Homo sapiens: one gene and its partners. The protein of the gene in region 1 interacts with the protein of each later gene in a pairwise test. Each region holds a gene or a part of one and is shown in the gene's direction. Other genes may lie near its edges.

Region 1 (5,286 bases):
AGCATCCCAGCCCTGATCAAAGGCCAGACTCCTCTTCTCGATTCCATCTCCCCTCACCTACTTCATTGGCTACTCCTCATCTCCTGTGCTATCTCTGCCTTCTTTGCTAATGTCTAAAGATAGGAGTCCCCCAAGGCTCAGTCCTTGGATCTCTATTCTTTATTTGTTCTTTCATAGGCAATCCCATCCATTTGCATGGCTTTAAGTATCTAACTGCCTGACAGCTCTGCTTGAATATCTACCAGTCACTTCAAACCTCTCACGTTCCCCCCATGCTCTTGCACTTCAACCAGTCTTCCCTATCTCCAGCTACCCAATCGATTAAGACAAAAACCTAGGTTATCCCTGATTTCTCACTTCCCCTCCTCACTCCCGCTATGTCTTTACCCAATCAAACAGAAAATGTCACCAACTTACCTCCAAAACCTACCATTTTGTTCACTTCTCTCCACCATGACTTCTAATCTGAGGCACCATCACTTTTCTCTTGGATTCTGCAAATAGTCTGACTTCCACTCTTGTCCCATGAACCCATTCTTCTAGGGGATTTTAGAAAATATAAATCCAATTATGTCATTTCCTTCCAAAGCTTCCATTGCCCTTGGAATAACCAGATTCATTTCTAGGACCTTCATTTTCTCACCCTCCACTTTCCTCTTATATTTCAGGCACACAGATATCCTTTCTATTCTTAGAGCAAACTAAATGATTTCTTTAAGACATCTTAATTTCCATTAGGTGCTTTTTATTTTCTGCTTGAAGTGCTCTCTTTTGGTTATTAAGGTCTCAGTTTGAATGTCACTTCCCCAAAGAAGCCTTCCCCAACCCTGAAATCCCAGATAGCCCTTCTGAGTTGCTCTGCTATATCACCACATTAAATTTCATGCACATAACTCAACACTTTTCAAAATTATCTTTTTTGTGTATTTGTTTACTTGTTCATTGTATGTCTCCCTCCCCTGGAGTGTAAGCTAGCTGAGGGCTAGAATTTTGTTTGTCTTATTCACCGCTGTATTCCCAGCCCCCAGAATACCTGACACATGGTCAAAGTTTGTTAAAATGAATGAATGAATGAATGAATGAATGGAAGAGACTCAGACAGGTTAAGTAAATTGTCCAAAGTCACAGAGCTAACAAGTCATCAAGCCATGGTTTGAATGCAAAATTTGGAGCTTTGTGTGGCTCCAAAGCCCATGTTTCCTGAACACTTCCCTCTACTGTCACAAAAAGCCATGTGTTCAGGACTTCAATTTACAAAATACTTTTGCATGCATTACCTAATTTGCTCCACATTGTAACCCGGTATGATATAATCATAGCTTTGCTTTTTCCAGATGTGGAAACCAAGGCTCAGAAAGGTTTAGTAATTAATCCAAGATCCCTCTCAGAGAAATAGAAGGGCTGGTAAGTAGCAAGGCAGGAATTCACTTCCCAGGAATTATGTATGGGTATGTGGCACCCAACCACACCACCTCTGAAGCTCACATTCTCACGCTGATAATCAAGGGTATTTTATACATGAGAACGGCTCATCAGGGCCATTCATTAGGAATCTAAGTGGGGAGCTGGAAGCACATTAAATGTACTGAGGCTAGGCCAGGTGTGGGGGCTCACATCTGTAATCCCAGCACTTTGGGAGGCCAAGGCAGGCAGGATTTCATGACCAGCCTGGGCAACATGACGAGACTCCATCTCTACAAAACAAACAAACAAACAAACAAACAAAAAAAAAACAAAAAAAAACAACTAGGTGTGGTGGTGTTCATCTGTAATCCCAGCCACTTGGGAGGCTGAGCTGGGAGGATCACTTGATCCCAGGAGGTCGAGGCTGCAGTGGGCTGAGATTGTACCACTGCACTCCAGCCTGGGTGACAGAGTGAGGCCCTGTCTCAAAAAAAGAAAGAAAACAAAAAGAAAAGTACTGAGGCTAAACAAAGCCTTGCTCCTGAAGAAAGGAGAGGTGTGGGGGTCCTATGGCAACTACTGTGGGTTTGCACAAAGGTCCCCAGATCATAAAACAAAGTGGTTTGGGGATCTTGGAAGGTTACAGGGGTGGACTTCAGTGTCTTGTACGAGACAAGGCATTTTAGAGTAAATTGGACATGTCCTAAGGTAAGGATCTGTGTCCTTCCACAGGTCTAGCTTTCTTGCCTGCCAGTGTGTCCTACCTCATTGGCACCAACCTCTTTGGTGTGTTGGCCAACAAGATGGGTCGGTATGTAGCCTCGGGATCTGGGACGAACAGTAGAAATGTAAGATGGAAGAGCGCCCGTTCCTGATCTTGGAATGATGAACAGCTTCCATACGGTTGAAAGTTTAGGATGAGTACACACCGATAAAAACTTCCCACTGGGAGGATGGGCAGTGAGTGAGTGGTGAGGGTGGTATGGAGAATGGATTGTCCTGAGCTCTGAGCTGATTGTTATAGAAGAGGCAGTGGATACATGAGGGGCACCCCTTACTTTCCATCCATTTGCTGTCCAGTTGAGGAGATAAAATAACCACAACAGAGAACAGCTATGAAAAATGCAGTACTTTGGGAAAGTAGTTTTCAAATTATGTTCTGTGGAATCCTAAGGAGTTCTATAGAGGCACCCCAGAGGCCACTGAGGAGGAAGGGTTGGGGGCCAAGAGCTATGAGTCTCCATTCTGTCCCTTCACTACAATAAGGACAGCTTTAATTTTATCTTTGGAGTTTAGCATCAAGATTTTAGAAGCACTGCCATAGGACATCAGAGAAGGAAAGAAGTTTGGTACTTTCTGTGTTTTTTGAGACAGACCTCAAGGACCAAATAAAATAGGACAGGTAGGAGGCAGTCTGAGCTGGGCAACAGCATGAGTTAAGTTTGAGGGCTACTTCTAAGGAACAAGTGCCTCCTGAGTCAGCTGATTCCTCCTGTAAGGGAAGGAAGAGTGTGTCCCACGGCACCTCCTCTGCCTTTCTATAGAAAAAGGGATGGAGCCAGGGGAGACAAGGAAAGGGCAGGGAGAGAGCTCATTTGGGTACAAACTGGTCATGTAGGGATGCTGTCCTCAGGTCCTAAGGGGTTGCTGGGATTAGGGCTGGTGGGACAGGTCAGCATGGCGGTGATGGGGTACAGGTGGAGGGGAGCTCTCCCCTAGTGGTGTTTGATGATGGCTTTTTTCTTCCAGGTGGCTGTGTTCCCTAATCGGGATGCTGGTAGTAGGTACCAGCTTGCTCTGTGTAAGTATAAGAAGACCTGGGGGAGGGGAAGGAGAGAGAGAGCGAGAGACAGACAGACAGAGAGAGAGAGAGAGAGAGAGAGAGAGGGAGAGAGAGAGAGAGAAAGACACAGACATTTAAAGACTAATTTCCTTTAAGATGAGCAGAGATGGCTTGGCAAGGACTGTCAGAAAGACTGTTTCTGAATAGGCAGGAATTTAGCACGGGGGAAGAGGCCACCAGCTGCAGTGGCTTTCCTTTGAGGGGAAGTGGGAAAGGAGAGGAAGAGGGCTGTAGGGCAGCTGGAGCCGGAGGTCTGAGGCTGTACATGTGGGCATATGAAGTGATACATGTTGGTATCCATTTCTGGGGATGGCAAAATGGTGCGTTTTATGACTTCATTTACTCATCCCACCCTGACAGAGCCTCATAAATCCCCAGGGAACCATCATCTATGTCCCAGTCTCTGGCACCAGAGGCTTGATAGAAGAAGAAAGAAAGAAGGACTTTTCCATTTCCAAGAATCCCCCTCAAGTTCTCAAAGCCTTCATTTCCTCCTCTCCCCAGTGGGGATGAGAAACACACAAACCTCCTAGGCCTGAGGGAGAGAAGAACAGGGCTACAAGGCACTGTAAACTGTGCTCAAGACCAGCTGGAGGTCCTGAGCAGGAGCATGGGATCCGGGTTCCATGGCAGGTTTTGCCACTTTCTATGCATGTGACTTTGAGCAGGTTACTTCATCTCCGTGTGCTCAGCATCCTCATCTATGTAGAGAGGGTTCTGATGGTGTCCACAGGGTTGTCAAGGTAATCCAAATAAACCACAGTGTCTGGCACATGGTGAGCCCATAGTGAATCTCAGCCAATACTATTGATAATTTATAAACATTTCTTGAGGCATGAACCCTAAAAATTGTTATCAGCCAGCAGCATCTAAACGGTATGCTAAACCCTTAAGGGGTGAGTGTCCTGGGGTAGCAGGTTTGAATGGCAGGTACCCAGAGAGGGAGGTAAGGAACCTGAAAAAGAGGGAAGAAGGGGTTTTTGTTGGGGGATTGGGAGGGCAATGGGAATGAGTCTCACAAGCTTCCTGACAGGGGACCCAAGCCACACCACCTGCCCCCTCTAGCTTACAGCTAACTGGTTGTTGGGGCCTCTTCTCTATCTTCTTTTTCCAACAGCTACCAAGTTAGAAGTCTAAATGAAACCTTTCAGTGATGTCCATAATGGAAAACAGAGGCAACTTTATTCCATGAAGAATGAGACCAGGAGTGTATGTTTAGGTGAAGAGGGGTAGAGGAAGGGGAGAAAGTATCCATGGAACAGAGGAAGACCCTCGTTAGAGCATAATGGAGCCAAGTCTGAGGTCCAAACTTGATCTTGCCACTCATTAGATCTGTAACTCTGGATAGAGCAATAAATAAACACAACAGCGCTGGTCAAGTTTTCATATCCTTAAAATGGAGGTATAGATTCTTTTCCATGAGAAAGTCTGAGAGTGCAGGAGGATGATGTATGTGGCCAATAGTGCACTCTGAATAAATGCATTTCATGTGAAAACTCTTTGAACCTTGCTCCCACCTGACCCATCTGGAGTCCTGATGACTCTTCCTCCTTCCCCATGCAGGTTCCTCTGGCTCACAATATTTTTGGTCTCATTGGCCCCAATGCAGGGCTTGGCCTTGCCATAGGTAAGAAGTGCCCTCAAAGAAAACAATAAGCCCCTGCATGTTGGCTTTGGGTCTGATGCCTTTCCTCCCCCTTTTCTCATCAGAGGAGGTAGGTGCAGAGGCAGAAGGATCAGGAGGGCAGCTGGCAGGGTTGTGGAGAGATGAGCTCGTAATTCCCACCTGGAACAGGTGTTAGTCCGAGGCAGAAGACAGCAGACAAAGCAAATGGACTAAATGGAGGAGGAGAGGCGGGGTGGTACTAACTGTGGGTGGGGCTGACTGTGTCCTGTTTGCTCTGGCCACAGGCATGGTGGATTCTTCTATGATGCCCATCATGGGGCACCTGGTGGATCTACGCCACACCTCGGTGTATGGGAGTGTCTACGCCATCGCTGATGTGGCTTTTTGCATGGGCTTTGCTATAGGTATGTTG
Region 2 (4,742 bases), on another chromosome or scaffold:
CTGCTGGGTTGTCACTCTTTACCCAAATCTGAAGCTTGGAGTGCTACAAAGCTCAATTTTGGACCCTTAAATCTTCTCTGTGCCCACTAAATCCTAGTTTGAAATAAGCCTGGCTTAGACTTAACCATTTTTCCCAGAATGCAGAATAATTATTTTTCTTGGTTAGATATTTCCCATAACATAGTGACAAAATTGTATATCCTTTAAAGATGGTTGATTTATCATCAAGTTTACTTGAATACATTCATTCTAAAAGTTCCAAGATACCCATGGTTTTAACTTCCTCCCTTTTGAAGGATTTTAGGAGAATTGATAACAAAGAAGGAAAGCTATATGAATTGTGTTTTGTCCTCTATTCTCAATTCTATCCAGAGTGTAAGGGATGTATTAATTGGTCTCCCTCCCCTATGTGGAGACATAGCTCTGTGTCACCAGGTTATTTTTTTCACTTTATTTTCTCCCATTATAAAAATAATACCTAATTACTCTAAAAAATGTTTAAATGTATAGAAAAGCAAAACAAGAACAATTACTCATAACTTCACCACTAAAATTTTTAATTTTATGATTCTCAATTTGCTTTGATATAATCTTTAATTTTATGATTCTCAATTTGCTCTGATATATCAGAATAATTATTCCTCTCTCACATTGTTATATCAATATATTAGTACAGTATCAATCATAATTAACATTTATTAAGAGTTTACCATAAGCCAGGCACTGTATTGAGCACATTAAGTATATTAACTCATTTAATCCTTAAAAAAACTCTATGAGATAGGTACTATATTCCAATTTTACAGTTAAGGAAACTGAGGCTTAGACAGTTTAAGTAACATGTCAATGGCTACAGGGTTCACTAATGACTAGTAAAGTAGGAAGTGTAAAAATTCTTTTACAAACTGTAAAATGTAAGTTGTAAGTTATCAATACCTTCAGCTGTCATTTGGGGATTTCTTAGTAAATGTAAGATATGGTACACTTTCCGTATCTTCTTTCTCTATAAAATTTCAGTTGCTACATTGATGGCTCTAGTAGGGACCACGAAAGAGAATTTTGTATCTCTCATCTGCTGACAGGACAATTGCTGTGGCGTAAATGGTCCATCAGACTGGCAAAAATACACATCTGCCTTCCGGACTGAGAATAATGATGCTGACTATCCCTGGCCTCGTCAATGCTGTGTTATGAACAATCTTAAAGAACCTCTCAACCTGGAGGCTTGTAAACTAGGCGTGCCTGGTTTTTATCACAATCAGGTGAGTCCTCTCTCCTCCCAAGACTTCCCAGGAGGTTCTGCTGCTCTTTATGAGAAAAATATTGGTCAACTGTAGGAAATAGTCTTTCAGTAAGGAATTCTACATTCTTTTCCCTAAACCTCATGTTAACTATTTCCTTCTCTGTTAATAAACTGCAAATGCTAAACCAGGACTGATAGGGGCAAATTTACATTTTAATAAAATTAACAAAACATGAGAATTGCAATAGCAGAACCCAACTTTGTTTAAATGAAGACAATTTGCACAATGTATGGAATTGGTATGTCAAGAAATATTTACATTAAACAAAGTTTTGCTCTAGTTTTGCAAAATGTAAATTGGAAGGGATGATGTGCAAAAAGAATGTTTTGCCAATTCCAAAGCAATGACTATTGCTGAGGATAAATGTAGTAATTACACATCCACATTCCTTATTCAATGGTAAAGTAGGACAGTCTTAATAAACATTAGGTTGGTGATTTGGATGGAAGGTAGTTTACATACAGATAGTTTTTGAAAAAGTTTCCAGGCTGATGAGGATAATGTGATTACGATCATGAAAACTAACATTTATTGTGTACTTACTAAATGCCAAACACTGTTTCCAGTGCCACACATACACTATCTCCTTTAATGCTCAGTAGTAGGTGCCAGTAGGATCCCTGTTTTACAAACGAAGAACTTAGACGTAGAGATACTAATAAATACCTTGCTGAGGTCACACAACTAGTAAATGTCCGTCTTTTCAAAAAACTCTCTGGCTTTTGAAACATGAGTTTTCTGCCTTCAAGCACAGACTCTAAGCCAGTGAAGACTTGTTAATATTCCCCAAAAGCCCTGATGAGAACCTCCAGGTACTTGTAGTCAGCATCTGCTGACCCTGTACACTGAAACGCTGTGCTCTGCTCAGGGAGTTACCTCTTTAAGGAAAGCTAGTTGTGTACCAGCTCATTAAATAATTGAGAAATGTCAGGCTGTTTTGTTTGGGAGCAGTACAAACTGCATGTTCAGATTGAGGGACATGGCACTGTTGCTGACAGGGTGCCTGGACTAGAACTGGATGCATTATTCCAGAAAAGGGCATGGGAGTGTTCTAGATTATTTTGCAGCAGTGTCCAGAGCAACCCTCATTGAGCTTTACTGCAACATTGTCTGGCATTGTTTTAATCAATTATATTCAGACTGTTATTAAAAATTAAATTTGCTGCTTATAATCAAGGTGTACAATATAATTATTCTCAGGACTATAAAAGGCTTTTGATATTTCAACACTGGAACTGCTCATGCAAACAAATCTTGATTGGATTGTAATTGTGTACAAACTGTATTACCTCTTTGAAAGGGATAAAAATAGGACATTTGTCTTCAGATAACCAGTTTATTTCATAGTTATACCTTTTTTCCTAGCACATATAATATTTTAGTTATGAGGACAAACCTGAAGCTTTTCTCAAGTTTAGATAGATGAGAAATTGAGGAAAAGATACAAATGAACTATTTTCCTCTACCTTGGGACCTCCACACCCATTTTGACAATGCTTCTAACACGTTCCCTTACAGTTCCCTGGCCTCATCTGTTCTAACAATTCCACCTCCACTACCCTACAGTTCCCTGGCTTTATCTGTTCTAACAACTCCACCTCCACTACCTACCAACTACAAATTCATCATCACTCAGCCCTACTCCTCCACCAAATTCCTGAATTCTGAAATTCCTCTCTCTGTTCCTGACTTCCTGTGCTCCTTGTTTCTCAACCTCACTCATTCTGCTCCTTTGACATAATCTCTTATCTATTAGTCCTTTCTGATTCTCCCTAGCCCAGCCTCCCAGATTCCCACACACCACCATTCTCCCTGACTCATAGGTCTTGCTAAGTCCCCTCTTGCCATCCTTTTCCACCAAGAAAAAGGTGCTACCCCAAGACCTGGTATACTTTATTTCTATTATTGCATTCACTACCTGGAACTATATTTGTTCCCAAGTCTATTTTTTCTGAGTCTCCTTGAGGACTATGTATTATTTGATTCTACAGATTTGATATTTTTAGTACTTAGCATAATGCCTGGCACAAAGCAAGCACCGACGTTTGATAGATGGGTGAATAAAGAAGTGAATAGTGAATGGTTTTTCTTTTTCTTTTTTTTTTTTTTTTTTTGAGATGGAGCCTGTCTCACTCTGTCGCCAGGCTGGAGTGCAGTGGCGCTATCTCGGCTCACTGCAACCTCCACCTCCCAGGTTCAAGTGATTCTCCTGCCTCAGCCTCCCAAGTAGCTGGGACTACAGGTGCACGCAACCACACCCAGCTAATTTTTGTATTTTTAGTAGAGATGGGGTTTCACCATGTTGGCCAGGATGGTCTCGATCTCTTGACCTTGTGATCCACCCACCTCAGCCTCCCAAAGTGCTGGGATTAAAGGAGTGAGCCACCGTGCCCAGCCTGGTTTTTGTTTTGTTTTGTTTGAGAGACAGGGTCTCACTCTGTCACCCAAGCTGGAGTGCCATGCTGCAATCACAGCTTATTGCAGCCTCAAGCTCCTGGGCTCGAGTGATCCTCCTTTCCACCTCAGCCTCCCAACTAACTACAGGCATGTACCACCAGGCCTGGCTAATTTTATTTTTTGTAGAGATGAGGTCTCACTGTGTTGCCCAGGCTTCACTTTTTGACAACCATATTGTAGGTTTTCAGGATCTACAATGCACAAATGTGCTGCTATAGCTGTGAAGACTAACAAAATTAGGGAAGTCACTATAAGCTTGTTAATAGTAGAAATTAACTAGAATTTCACACAGCATGTCAGATGCAAATATATATATATTCTATGTTATGGTTTATGTGACTCAGAAATGCTATGTGCAAATTGTGATCACTATACCTCAAAAATGTTATAATAAAATGAAGGAAGATCAAGTAAAGTACCACTAAATTGACTAGCATCACGAAAAGGCACTAAATGATGGTGAAAAAAATGGGGCTTCTGTCTGTGAGCTTCATGAAGGCAAGGCCCATTTCTGTTTGCCACAGCTAAATGCCCAGCCAGTACTTGGCACCTGGCATAAGTGGGCCCTTATATATATATTATTAGATGAACGACCACCTCCCAGGATTGTTGGGAGGACCAAGGAGTAGCAGATATGGGAGTGTTTTGTGAACCATCAAGTGTGTTGCAAATTATACTATTGTAAACATTAATGTTCCATTCATTCTGTAAATGTTTATTACGTGTCTACTATGTGCCAAGCACTTGTTCTAGGTTCTAGAAATTCAACAGTGAACAACATAAAATCCCTGCCCTCATGGAGCTTGCATTCTAGCATGGGAGACAGAAAATAAACATGTTACCAAACAAATACATGATAAAATTCCAGGCCCAAATAGGCCATGAGCAGAAATAAGGCAGGGTGAGTATATAGAGTAGGATGGAGAAAGGGTCTTTTTCTCTGTCACTGTCAGGAAAGGCTTTGTTGAGATGATATTTGCA
Region 3 (4,742 bases), on another chromosome or scaffold:
GAGGAAGCTGCGGCTCAGCGAGCGAGGCCAAGTGCCTGGCCCAAAGTCACTAAGCATGTAAGTGGCAGACGAGCATTTGAGCCTAGGTCTTCCTGTCTCCAAAGAGTAGTTCTCCCCCTGGGGCAGGGAAGAATCCAGAATCCTGGAATGTCAGGATTGGAAAGGACACAAAGGTCACCTGGACCAACCAATGCTCAAACGACCCCACAGCCTCCCAGTCCTGCTCACACACGTGGATACAAGGCGCTCACTACCTTTGTCGAACCAAGAGGTGTCTGATACAGGCTGATTGACACCTTTAAAAGTAGCTTTTTTTCCTGATCAGAGTAATACCTGCCAATTATTGGAAAGTATAAAAATCACATGTGATGGTTGCACGGTAGGAATGTACTTAACACCACTGAAATGGTGAAGATGGTAAATTGTATGTTACGTGTGTTTTACCACAACAGAAAAAGTTTGGTGGGGGGTGGTAATCATGTGATACCACCACTTAGGGAGGGCTGCAGTGAATAGGGTGCTGTCTCCTTCTGGTCTTTTCGAAACTGTGTGGCGTGCTGAGCCATTTAAACACATCAGGAGCTGCGGGGGATGCAGCTGGCGCCTGCTCTTGGCCCTCACACCACAGGGCAGAGCAAGTGAAGCTGAGCTCCAGGACCAGGGTGACCCGTTTATCCTGGTGTGCTGGAACTTCCTGCCTTTAGCATTCTGAGAGGCCCTTAGTCCAGACAAACAGGGACAATTTGTCACCCTGTCCAGGACTCCTGGACAACCCAGACCCCTACCACAGCCCTGGAGGGGCCCTAACAGCATGTGCACATGAACCTGTGATTGTTTTTTTTCTTTTTTTGAGATGGAGTCTTGCTCTGTTGCCCAGGCTGGAGTACAATGGTGCCATCTCGGCTCATTGCAACCTCCGCCTCCCAGGTTCAAGCAACTCTACTGCCTCGGCCTCCCAAGTAGCTGGGACTACAGGCACACACCACCACGCCCAGCTAATTTTTGTATTTTTAGTAGAGATGGGGTTTCACCATGTTAGCCAGGCTGGTCTCGAACTCCTGACCTCAGGTGATCCACCTGCCTTGGCCTCCCAACGTGCTGGGATTACAGGCGTGAGCCACCGCACCCGGCCTGGACCTGGGATTTTTGTAAAATTTGTAAAAGAAAGATTTTTTTTTCTGTTGCTTTTCCAAAAGAGGGCCCCCAAATCATGTAAGCTTCAGGGCCTCACCAACCTGGACCCACCCTGGAACCCAAGCCCTCTGAGCCCCTGGGTCAGCCTGCACAGAAGCAGGGCCTCCAAGACCTGGCTTGTCTCTTTTTTATTTTTTTAGAGACAGGATCTTGCTGTGTTGCCCAGGCTGGTCTCAGACTCCTGGACTCAAGTGATCCTCCCACCTCAGCCTTGTGAGCAGCTGGGACGATGAGGCGAGGCGTGGGCCACTGCATCCGGCATGGCTTGTCTCTTGACTAAGGCTTTCTCACCTCTTGGTGTCATCGCCCCAGTGGCAGATCAGCTGCCACTCCTGGCACCCCCAGGCCACAGCTGTGACCTTCAGTAAGTGTCCCCTCCCCACCCTCTGTGCCTCAGTCTTCCCACCCGAACTGGGCTGGGCTGGGTCAGAAGTGCCTGATCTGTTGCGCGGTGACTGCCGCCTGTCAGTGACTCATTTCTTTGTTCTAAAGCCAGATGGGAAAAAAAGGAGTTACAGCAAGAAGCTAAACTGATTTAATAGAAAGGACCACCTTTTATTTGGAGTTTATATTCTTTTTTGCAGGGGGCTAAGATGGACTATAGGGAATGAATATCAGTGCTGGCAGATGAGTTTTTTGTTTGTTTGTTTTTTGTTTTTGAGATGGAGTCTCGCTCTGTCTCCAGGCTAGAGTGCAGTGGCGCGATCTTGGCTCACTGCAACCTCTGCCTCCTGGTTTCAAGTGATTCTCCTGCCTCAGCCTCCCAAATAGCTGGGATTACAGGCACCCACCACCATGCCCAGCTACTTTTTAAATTTTTAGTAGAGACGGGGTTTCACCATCTTGGCCAGGCTGGTCTCAAACTCCTGACCTAGTGATCCACCCGCCTCAGCCTCCCAAAGTGCTGGGATTACAGGTGTGAGCCACCGTGCCCAGTCAATGTTTCTTTAATTCTCTACTTTGACAAAATGAAAATGATAAAATGTTTGAAATGTTGCCATTTTCAGGGTTCATTTTTTAAGGGCTTTGGCCATAATACCACATGGTTCTGTAAGTGGGGTGGGTATCTTCCCCCCGTTTTACAAATGACAGAATTAAGGCTCAGCCTGGAGAAGTGACTTGTGCTAGCTCAAGGCCTGGGCTTGTCAGAGACTTGGTTTGAACCCGGACTGCTGGGCTCCACATTCTGTGTACTCCCTGTGGGTTCTCTGCCTGGATATCCATGGCACCAAGGGGTGGCCTGAGGGGGGCAGCTTCATACCCCTGGTTTTATTCACCCCCTCCACTCCACCCCCCATCATCCCAAGTGAACACTGAATAAAAAAGCTGAACTTGGCCAGGTGAGGTGGCTCACGCCTATAATCCCAGCACTTTGGGAGGCCAAGGCGGGTGGATCACTTGAGGTCAGGAGTTCGAGACCATCCTGGCCAACATGGTGAAACCCCATCTCTACTAAAATACAAAAATTAGCTGAGCGTGGTGGCGGTCGCCTGTTATCCCAGCTACTCAGGAGGCTGAGGCAGGAGAATCGCTTGAACCCGGGAGGCGGAGGTTGCAGTTAGCTGAGATCACACCACTGCACTCCAGCCTGGGCAACAAAAGCAAAACTCTGTCTCAAATAAAAAAAAAAAAAAGCTGAACGTTTTTTGTAAACACAGCAGTTTCAAGATAAGACCCCTTGCCTCCCCCAACCAACTTGCCATGTGCCAGCCATGGGGCCACAGGAAAATTCTGGGACCAGCGGTTGTTGGGGAAGAGGGTCCAGGGTAGAGACAGAACCTCTGGCCAGTTCTGATGTTCATTTGTTCATTCCACAAGTCCCCTGCTCAGTGCCAGCTGAGTGCTCAGTGCCACCCCAAGGCACTCTCGCTCCAATAACGAGAACAGGATTGAGTGGGAAGCACTGTCCCAGAGGCTCGGGTCACTACAAGAAGGAATTCCCAAGGGGTGGCCCAGGAGAGGCTTGGATGACAGACTCACAAGCTGGACTTCCTCTGAGGGCAGTGGGAAGCTGGAGAGAGGGTCAAGGGTATTTCGGAAGCTCCTGTGGAAGCTTGGTTTGGAGAGGGCTCTGTGGCTGGAAATGCGTGGTCACGTCCAGCCTGTCCTCTCCCAGTACCGGGCACAGCCCTGTCACCTAGACAGGAAGGTGGGCCCACGGCCCTTGTTTGTTATTTATTGCTGACCACCCTGGAGTCTTTCTCACCTCTTCACCTCCTGTGGCCGGCCGCTCCGCCGCTTCTTCTCTCTCAGGTCTAGGACAGGGTCAGCTGCAAGGAGACCGCTGGGAGGTGATAGATTTCTGCTGTGTTTTGGGCACTTCCTCATGTCCAGGGACAGCCCAGGGGCGGCCTCAAGAGCCTGAGAAAGCCTAGGGCATCAGGAGCAGGGCCATCAGAGCGGGACCTTGGAAAACCCCTACCTCTTTCAGCCTTGGTTGCCTCATCTGTAACATGGGATTGGAGGGCCTGGGTTTGGGGAGGCCTCGAGAGTTTATAAAAATGCAAATTTTGGCCAGGTGTGGAGGCTCATGCCTGTAAGCCCAACACTTTGGGAGGCAGAGGCAGGTGGATCACCTGAGGTCAGGAGTTCGAGACCAGCCTGGCCAACATAGCGAAACCCTATCTCTACTAAAATTACAAAAAATTAGCCAGGCGTGGTGGCACGCGTCTGTAGTCCCAGCTACTTGGGAGGCTGAGGCATGAGTATCGCTTAAGCCCGAGAGGTGGAGGTTGCAGTGAGCCGAGATTGCGCCATCGCACTCCAGCCTGGGCTAAAAGAGTGAAACTCCATTTCAAAAAAAGAAAAGAAAAAGAAAGAAAGGAAAAGAAAATGCAAGTTATTTTTGTTTGTTTGTTTTTGAGACAGGGTCTCGCTCTGTCACCCAAGTTGGAATGCAGTGGCACGATCTCAGCTCACTGCAGCCTCCACCTTCCAAATTCAAGCGATTCTCCTGCCTCAGACTCCTGAGTAGATGTCCGCCACCACACCCGGCTAATTTTTATATTTTTAGTAGAGACAGGGTTTCATCATGTTGGCCAGGCTGGTCTCAAACTCCTGACCTCAAGTGATCCGCCTGCCCCGGCCTCCCAAAGTGCTGGGATTACAGGTGTGAGCCATCTTGCCTGGCCTGAATGCAAGTTTAAAAGGCCTGCCGTAAGTCTGCTGTGGTGCGTTTTGTTATCCCCTCCTTAGATGAAAAGCTGAGGCCCAGAGAGGTTAACTGGAGTCACTGGGATCGGAACCCATGGCCCCTGCTCCAGGGAGTCCCCAGCCATGTGGGGAGTCCCACATGAGCAGCGTGTGCAAAGCTGTTGGGCGGGCCTGAGCCCCAGGGAGAAAAAACAGAGGCTGGGAGAGGAAGGGAAGAGAGGAGGAGAAGCCAGGAGGAGGAGGGAGGGAGGAAGGGAGAGGCAGATGGCAGGGCTGTTGGAGGGAGCCACACTTGGCACCCAGACCGGAAGAACCAGCTGTCAGGTGGGAGGGGAGGCAGGGTAGGCGCAGAGGAGTGCCTTGGCCTGGAGACCTGAGGCTGCGTTCTGCACCCT

What was found. The genes of interacting proteins can lie anywhere in the genome.
Region 2: the proteins of SLC18A1 (region 1) and UPK1B interact in a two-hybrid assay, tested with the Homo sapiens proteins (one large-scale study listed by BioGRID).
Region 3: the proteins of SLC18A1 (region 1) and SYNGR1 interact in a two-hybrid assay, tested with the Homo sapiens proteins (one large-scale study listed by BioGRID).

What each region holds. Positions count from the first base shown.
Region 1 is NC_000008.11:20,147,595-20,152,880, reverse strand, and holds part of SLC18A1 (chromaffin granule amine transporter), read left to right. Parts: intron 1-2,136; coding exon 2,137-2,215; intron 2,216-3,153; coding exon 3,154-3,205; intron 3,206-4,810; coding exon 4,811-4,874; intron 4,875-5,158; coding exon 5,159-5,278; intron 5,279-5,286.
Region 2 is NC_000003.12:119,193,137-119,197,878, forward strand, and holds part of UPK1B (uroplakin-1b), read left to right. Parts: intron 1-1,082; coding exon 1,083-1,262; intron 1,263-4,742. UniProt on the Homo sapiens protein: Component of the asymmetric unit membrane (AUM); a highly specialized biomembrane elaborated by terminally differentiated urothelial cells.
Region 3 is NC_000022.11:39,352,030-39,356,771, forward strand, and holds part of SYNGR1 (synaptogyrin-1), read left to right. Parts: intron 1-4,742. UniProt on the Homo sapiens protein: May play a role in regulated exocytosis. Modulates the localization of synaptophysin/SYP into synaptic-like microvesicles and may therefore play a role in synaptic-like microvesicle formation and/or maturation.